2 separate regions of the Homo sapiens genome follow, and region 2 is linked to region 1. A link means that fine-mapping ties the variant in region 1 to the expression of a gene that starts in the linked region. Tissue or cell type: testis. Region 1 holds a variant in brackets; the other region holds the start of a gene. All regions are shown on one strand. Distances are from middle to middle.

Region 1 (4,199 bases):
CAATAGGATAAAGGGTTAGAGGAGAGCTTGGAGTGACAGTGACTGAGTCTGTGAAGGAAGAGTTTGGGTCAGGAACATCTTGGATCCTGGGCCAGCTGTTTGATAGCTATTTCAGAGGAAGAGACTGAGGTTGGAGAGGTTCAAAGGCTTGTCTGGGGCTGTTCAGCCAGTACCCCAGAGACTGAAGGGAAATAAACCAAGGGAAAACCCGGAGAACAAAATCCAGGCAGATATGAGCTAGAATCCTGGGTTGGCCACTTAACTAGGCTTGGAGGTGTGAAGTGGCACCCCTGAGGACACACGAGAGTCCCTTCACCTAACTGTCCTCATCTTTAAAGTGGGAATAGTAACAATTTCTCCTTTGTCCACTTCCTGGGTTGTTGTGAAGGTTAAAGGAGATGAGGCATTTGTAAAATCAGGTGAGAATGTGGTTGCTGGTCATTTTTCAGTCCAAAGCTGCAGTTCCGGGTTTGTGTTTGTGGTGGTGGGAGCATTTCTGACAGCTCCTCTGTTGAGATGCTTTATCCAGGAGTTGTGCTGGAGAGAAGCCCTAAGAATAACACCACCGGCCGGGCATGGTGGCTCACACCTGTAATCCCAGCATTTTGGGAGGCCAAGGTGGGCGGGTCACCTGAGATCAGGAGTTCGACACAGCCTGGCTAACACGGTGAAACCCCGTCTCTACTAAAAATACAAAAAATTAGCTGGGCATGGTTGGTGGCAGGCGTCTATAATCCCAGCTACTCGGGATGCTGAGGCAGGAGAATCACTTGAACCGAGGAGGCGGAGGTTGCAGTGAGCCAAGATCGTGCCACTGCACTCCAGCCTGGGCAATAAGAACAAGACTGCATCTCAAAAAAAAAAAAAAAAAAAAAAGAATAACACCACCATTTATTGCACAGTTGCCGGTACCAGGCATTGTACTCAACTTCACCTCTCATTGTATCATTAACCCCCTACAGCAACTTTGTCAGGTAGGTGGTACCCCTCACCCATGCTGGGTCCCTCCAAAACCCATGCCAACAGCCCCTGTAATGATAGTAGCAAACGCTTCTGAATGGTTTACTGTGTGCCAAGCATCCTTCCAGACGTGTTACATGTATTGACCCATGTTAATCCTCACATCAACCCTGTGAGGTGGATACTAATATTATCTCCAGTTTGCAGATGAATAAATGAGGCATAGACAAGTAAAAACGAGGCCAGGCGTGGTGGCTCAAGCCTATAATCCCAGCACTTTGGGAGGCTGAGGTGGGTAGATCACCTGAGGTCAGGAGTTTGAGACCAGCCTGACTAATACGATGAAACCCCATCTCTACTAAAAATACAAAAATACACGGTGGCATGCGCCTATAATCCCAGCTACTTGGGAGGCTGAGACAGGAGAATCGCTTGAACCAAGGAGGCGGAGGTTGCGCCATTGCACTCCAGCCTGGGCAACAAGAGGGAAACTCTGTCTCAAACAAACAAACAAATAAACAAAACAAAACAAAACAAATGGCCCCAATGTCACAAAAGGTAGAGCCATAAATAGTGAAGTCAGGATTTTCCCAGGTTCTTTTTTTTTTTTTTTTTTTTTTTTGAGACAGAATCTTACTCTGTTGTCCAGGCTGGAGTGTAGTGGTGCGATCTTGGCTCACTGCAACCTCTGCCTCCCAGGTTCAAGCAATTCTTGTGCCTTAGCCTCCTGAGTAGCTGGGATTATAGGCACCCACCACCATGCCAGGCTAATTTTGTATTTTTGGAGAGACGGAGTTTCACCATGTTGGCCAGGCTGGTCTCAAACTCCTGGCTTCAAGTGATTTGCCTGCCTCGGCCTCCCAAAGTGCTGGGATTACAAGTGTCAGGTTCTTTTATTCTGAGATAGGGTCTCACTCTGTCGCCCAGGTTAGAGTACAATGGGGTGATCACGGCTCACTTCAGCCTTGACCTCCTGGGCTCAAGGGAGCCTCCTACCTAAGCCTCCTGAGTAGGTGGGACTCCACCACACACACCTAATTTTC[A/G]TATTTTTTGTAGAGATGGGGTTTCCCCATGTTGCCTAGGCTGGTCTTGAACTCCTGAGCTCAAGCAAAACTCCCACCTCAGCCTCCCAAAGTGCTGGGATTATAGGTGTGAGGCACCGTGCCCGGCTGGCCCAGGTTCTTAAAGTCTCCTCCTTGACACAATCATCACAGTTGTAATTCAGTAGTTATTTACATGATTGTCTCCTCACTGCATTGTAAGCTCCATAAGTACAGGGGCCATGTCTGTCTTCTTCAGGCTGTATCCCCAACACCTGGCACACAGCAGGTGCTCAGTTAATGTTTGTTCACAGGGACGCTGCTGCCTCTAGTGGGCTGGGCCCTGGAGGCCTGATGAGCTGAGGGTGGATTATCAGATTATTGCTGACTAGGGCGTCTGCCCCAGCAAGACCCCAGAGGCAGAGGGAGGGCAGGGTTCCCTCCTGGCTCAGGCCCTGGCTGAAGAAGGGGACCCAAAGGGCTTTTTCTTTGGCTGTGCTGTGTGTCTCACTGCTGTCATTTGCTTCCATGTGCCACTGCGGTGATGGCTCCATGGCCTCTCCTGGACTGGCTGCGTGACCCCGACGGCTGCTTCTGGGTGAGTAATGGTTTGACTTAATGACTGCCACATGAGCTGATTTTAATGCATGTCCTGTGGCTCTGAGGCCACTGGGAGGCGTAAAGAGAGGCCCGGGGGTAGGGGTGGAAATGCTGAGAGAGGGCACTCTGTGATTTTAGGATCCTACCATAAGCAGGGCCTACCAATTAAACACACTGGGTGCTGATTTTTTGGTCACATGATACAATGCAAAGGTCTTTGGGGCAGACTGGGCTGGAATAGAATCCTTTTTCTGTTGCATACAGGTGGGTGATTCTTTGCATCTCAGTTTCACGTCTGCAAAATAAGAATATGAATACTTATGGGACACAAGTATATTTGTTCTTTTATTCATGTAAGCCCCACAAGGGCAGGGATTTTTGTTCATCTGTTCACCAGGTGCTGTATCTTCAGCGCCTAGGGTATAGTAGCACGTAGTAGGTGCTCACTGAATGTTTCCAAAGGAATGAAGATATTTATTGACTGTTTATGGTATACCTATCAATGTGCTTTGTATTGGATTAAATGGCTAATGGATATAAAGGGCCCAGCATGATAGGGGCTCAGTGAATGTGAATTCCCTATTTGCTCAATAGACTGTGACTTTCTTGGGGATCAGGGCTCTGGTAAAGTGAGCTCTGGGTCTTCTGAACTTAGTAAGGGGCCAAGTACCAAGCATGTATCAATCAGCACAGAGAGGGGCCTGGCAACTGGACTTCCTGGAGAGGGAGTGACAGAGCCTCTAGTTTTCATCAGAAGAGAGAGGCAGCTGGGAAGATCTGGGGCAGAAATGGGAGGGATGGGGAGGGACTCTGCCTTCTAGTACTGCCACTTTTCCTTGTCCAGGTGTGACCCTGGACAAGGCATGCTCTTCCCTGAGTCTTGGAGACCTCATCTGTGATGTACATATCACAACACTTTCCCCGCATAGGTGTGGGAAGGAGTTGATGAGAAGAGCCCACACAGGGCCCCATTTGGTAACTTCCCAGCCCTGGGCTCATTCTGGGATTCTGGGAGGGGACTATGTGTTCCTCTTTCTGGCTTTTTTCTCCTACTTTTAACTGCTCACCCAGCTGGGACTGGAATCCAAGGAGCCCCTGAACTTCCCAGCAGACTGGCCAGGGCCCTGGGATAAGGGCTGGGCTCTGCCTGGTGTGGGAGGAGCTGAGTGGAGGTTCCAGCTCTGCCACTCTCGCTGTGTGACTTGGTTCTGTAACCCCTTCTCTGCCTCGGTTGCCTTACCTGTAAAGTAGGGTTATTAAAAGACACCTCCCTTGAAGAATTGTTTAATTAGAAAATAGGTGGATTAGGCATTATTATCCATAATGCTATTTGGCTCTGGCTGAGGTGACTCTAGGGAGGGCCCTGAAGAATTACATCCCACTGTGGCCCAGGGAGCCTGGGACTCACTAGTCATCATGTGTATTATTGCCATTTATTGGCTATTTCTTATGGGCTGGGCTGGTTATATGCTATTTTAGACACATTATCTCATGCATTCCTCCTAGTGACCTAGGAGACCCTCTGAAGCAGGCATTATTATCCCCGCTTCATGGCACTGGGTAAGTCAAGTGAGTCACCCAGAATCCCACAGTTCTTTA
Region 2 (4,199 bases), 81 kb before region 1:
AGCTGGGCTAGTTGGAGGTGGGGTGGGGATCAGGGAAGGTTTCACAAAGGAAGTGATATTTAAGCTGAAATTTGAGGGGTAAATAACGCTTAGGCTGGGGTATTGGCCCAGCCTTCCGAGTGGAAGGAATAGCATGTACAAATGTCCTGAGGTAGGAAAAAACTTGGCTTGGAGGGTTAGGGAGGGGACCAGAATTCCAATAAAGTAGCCCTCCTTCTTCCTATCCCAATTTCTCTCTGCTGGCACTAGAAAAGTTTCTGAGTACCAGGCCCTTTGGGAAAGGGAGAGAGTTTTGGCAGCAGGTGACCACAGCAAAAATCTTTCTGATAAGTCCTTAGGTGGTTGAGTGGGAAAGCCCTGGGGTGGGGGGCTTGCTGTAGTTGGTAGAAGTGGCTGGACAGCAGCTAAGTGGGGTGGAGAAAATGGAGAAGAGGGTGAGCTTGGGAATTCTGGCTTTGCTTTTTTCTGGGAAAGGGTAGGAGCCTTGCACATATATGGATGATTCAAGCTAGAGGGTGAGATGAGGGAGAGCTCCTTGTCCAGCCACACACAGATCCAAGAGCATTGCCCCAGAGCCTAGAGCTCAGAACCCCTAATATTGTTCCACTCCAGTTCCCTTTGGGATCTTTATTATCCAAAAAGTATTTCTTGAGCACCTGCTGTGACCCCAGCCCTCTCCTGGATGCAGGGGTCAATCAGACCTGGTCCCTTTAAGGAGGGAGACCAGTTCGGATAGAAATAATTACTATATGGGATAATTTAGTGCTGAGCACTAAATCTGTAACATGGGGACAATAATAATAGAAGCTACACCAAAGTGTTGGTGCATGGATAAAGTGCTTATCACAGTGCCTGGAGCAAAGTAATGCTTGGTAGAATGTTCTGGAAAGGCTAGGCACCCCAAGAAGAAGGATGGCTCTAATCTGGAATGGTTAGGTCTTGGAAGGGGTGTGGCAAGGATGACTTAGCCAAGTGCCCCCCTTCTATCTGCTCGCACTGCAGCCAGAGTGCTCCTTAAGGTGGTCTTCAAGAGCCTGCCCACCACCTCATCGCCCCCTCACTTCCTGCCTTCTCCTCTTCCTGGCTTCCTTTCAGTCCCTCTGCTTCCTTTATCCGGAATCCTCTTCCCTTGTTACTTCCTTAAGTTAGTTCTTCCCCAAACTTCACACCTCACCTCAAGTGTCGTTTCCCCAGGGAAGCTGTCCTGACCCCTGGGTTTTGTAGACCCTGCCACTTTCTCAATTCGTACCTATATCTTAATGTCATTTTAGGGTTGCTCGCTCTCTCTCCTGCACTGGGCTGTAAGCCCCAGGAAGCAGAGGCTGCATCTGGTTTTGTGTACTAGAGGGTCCCCCCAAATACCCGGCTCTTCTATTAGGCACCCTCAGAATTTTTGTTGAGCGAATGAATGGGGTGCAAGAAAGGCACGGATAATATAGGTTATTTACGGAGCATGTAACTGTCCGCAGGGCACTGCTCTAAGCTCTTTGTTCGAATCATTTTATTCAATCTCCCCAACCACCCTCTGAGGGAGGTGGTACGATTTTCCTCATCTCACAGACAAAGAGAATGAAGCTGAGGGAGGTTAAGTGACTTACACAAGGTCACTCCGCCTGTTAGTGCAGGGGCGGGAGGCGGGATCCACACCCAGGTCCCTCTGACACCAAAGTGGCAAGGGGGTGGGAGGGGAGTCCAGGTTGGGACGGGGTCGCACTCGAGCCGGCGGAGCATCCCTAGGGAGGGGGCGGGAGGCCTCCCCTGCCCAGCTCCGAGCCGGTGGTGCAGCGTCCGCCCCCGGTCGCGGGCGCAGACTGGCGGCCGCCTCCGGGCCACGTGGTGCGCGCGGCGGGCGCGTCCGAGGAGCCTGCGGCTGCTCCTGGCTCACAGCGCTCCGGGCGAGGAGAGCGGGCGGACGCCGGGGGCTGGGCCGGTGCGGGCGGCGAGGCAGGCGGACGAGGCGCAGAGACAGCGGGGCGGCCGGGGCGCGGCAGCCGGCGGCGTCGGGGCCGCGGCCTCTGCCTTGCCGCTCCCCTCGCGTCGGATCCCCGCGCCCAGGGCGCACGGTGGAGAGGGACGCGGCGGAGCCGGCCGGCAGCCATGGAACCGGCCCCCTCCGCCGGCGCCGAGCTGCAGCCCCCGCTCTTCGCCAACGCCTCGGACGCCTACCCTAGCGCCTGCCCCAGCGCTGGCGCCAATGCGTCGGGGCCGCCAGGCGCGCGGAGCGCCTCGTCCCTCGCCCTGGCAATCGCCATCACCGCGCTCTACTCGGCCGTGTGCGCCGTGGGGCTGCTGGGCAACGTGCTTGTCATGTTCGGCATCGTCCGGTGAGTCCGCTGCGGGCCGGCGCCGCAGGGCTGGAGCCCGGGGTGAGGGTGGGGATCACGAACTTGAGACCCCAAGCCCGTTCCCTGGACTCCCCGCGCCTCCGCATTTCCTGCAGGGGCACCTGGGGCCCAGCGAGAGGCGAGGCCACTTACATCGAGGGGAACACAGGAATGTGTGTCATCGTGTGTATGTGTGTGTGTGGTGCGGGGGGGGGAGTGCGCCGCGGTTGACTAAATTACATTTGATCATCTGTTGGCATCCCCTTGCTTCTTTGTGGGACAGTTTGGCGTCAGTTTGTGTGTCTGTCACAGTTTGTGAGTGGATGGTTGTGACAGTACAACTGTATGTTTGGACGTCGGAAACATGCCCATGGGGTGGGCAGAGCTGCTCTGAGGTGCCGCGGGCCTTTGGGGAGACCGGTGTGAGGGCACCGTGCAGGCAGGGCGGACAGGAGGGTGCTGGGTGTCAGCACCTCGCCGTGGGGCCCTTACCAAGTCATATTTGGTGCTCATCTGTTGGTGTGAGCTTGTCCCTAACGGTCAGTTTGTGATTCTGTCTGAATGTAACAATGTGACTGTTGTTTCTTGTCAAGCTCTTGAAACCCCGAGGGCGGCAGAGCATCCGGAGTGGCCGTCGTCCCTGTGTTTGTGCAGCTGTGTGTGCCTTTGCCAGTGATTCCTGGATAACATGGGCGACAGCTGTGGGCCGCCAACCGGTTCTCTGTTCCCTTCGCCAGTGCCCATCTGGTCAGGAATTCTGAATAGGATTCAGAGAAGACTCACGCCCTCCTCACAAATGCCCTCTCCCATTTTCTCTTTGCCTCCTCTAACAGTCTTTTCTTCTGCCAGAGGCAGCAGAGGTTGGTCTGGGCGGGAGTGGATTTTGAGTTTTCATCCCAGGAAGTGAGGTGCTCTTCTTGGAGTTTATGGAGAGTGCTGGGACCTTCTCAGAGAGCCTAAGACGTCAGCTTGCCCCAGAAGTAGCCCTCCTGATACAGCCCCACAAGCTCAGACATGGCCAGTAAGGGTTGAGAGGAAAATTTCCATCTTTAAAACAACAAAGATGCCCTCGTATTTGCTGTTAGTTGAAAATGGGTCCTTCATGCTGGTGGACCAAGGACATGGCCCTAAACCTCTCTGGGCTGTGGGTGCCACCATGCAGGGCATAGGTCAGGTCGTGGACTCAGAGGTTAGAGAGATGAACTGTAGTCTCAGCCTAGTCATGGATGCCCAGGCATCATTCTTCCTGCCCTGCCTCCCATCCGCCTCAGTTTCCCTGTTCGAAGAATACAGACCTAATCTCCTCAATTGGAAAGTATGAATTCCAGGGTATGGGGTCTCTGCAGCGCAGAACGTGGTGTGTTGGAGCATGGGATGAGGTGTGTGGGTGTCAGTGGGCTTCGGCATTGATGATCTCTGGGAGATCTTTGCTCCTCCAGAAAGAGTGGCGGGTACAAGAATTTCCTGTGCTTTCCATGACTCATCACAAGCAACAGTGGGAGAATTCCCCCCAAGCACAGGCGGGACTGATCTTTACTTTGTGTCTTTGTCAGTGATTCTCCCCACTTCGCAGGCTTCGAGGCAGGCCGGCCTGGTATGAATCCCTGCTCTGCCACGAACTGGCTCTGTGACTTGGATGAATCACTTAGCCTCTTTGAGCCTCAGTTTCTTCATCTGTAGAATGACGTAATGATAAATCTTCTTCCACAGGGTTGTTGTGAGGTGTCAGTGAGAGAGCACATAACGCACTGGCCTGGCGCCTGGACCCAGTAAATGGACGCTGTCTGTATAGCGAGGCGGAGGGATTTTCTAGATCCTGTAGAATCTGACTAAAGAAGGGAGCTTGAGGGAGGTGCTTGTCCTAAGGTGGGCCTG

Which allele goes with the higher level. Positions count from the first base shown, and alleles are read on the strand shown. Sizes are in standard deviations (SD) of each study's normalised expression.
As copies of G replace A in region 1, the expression in testis of the gene that starts at base 1,884 in region 2 goes down (small effect, 0.37 SD a copy in GTEx).

Evidence for each region. PIP is the estimated chance that this variant, and not a neighbour inherited with it, causes the effect.
Region 2: it holds the start of OPRD1, and the variant in region 1 is the best candidate, but not a certain one, in a credible set for the expression of OPRD1 in testis (GTEx, PIP 0.61).

The regions. Positions count from the first base shown.
Region 1 is chr1:28,891,240-28,895,438 of GRCh38, forward strand. It overlaps a transcript of EPB41 not described here. Among named protein-coding and RNA genes, the nearest start is that of EPB41, 21 kb to the right of the region's middle. The variant A/G (reference allele first, on the strand shown) is at 2,004.
Region 2 is chr1:28,810,287-28,814,485 of GRCh38, forward strand. It overlaps OPRD1 (opioid receptor delta 1), which reads left to right and starts at 1,884. Exons shown (of 3, transcript NM_000911.4): 1 at 1,884-2,324. The coding sequence starts at 2,098.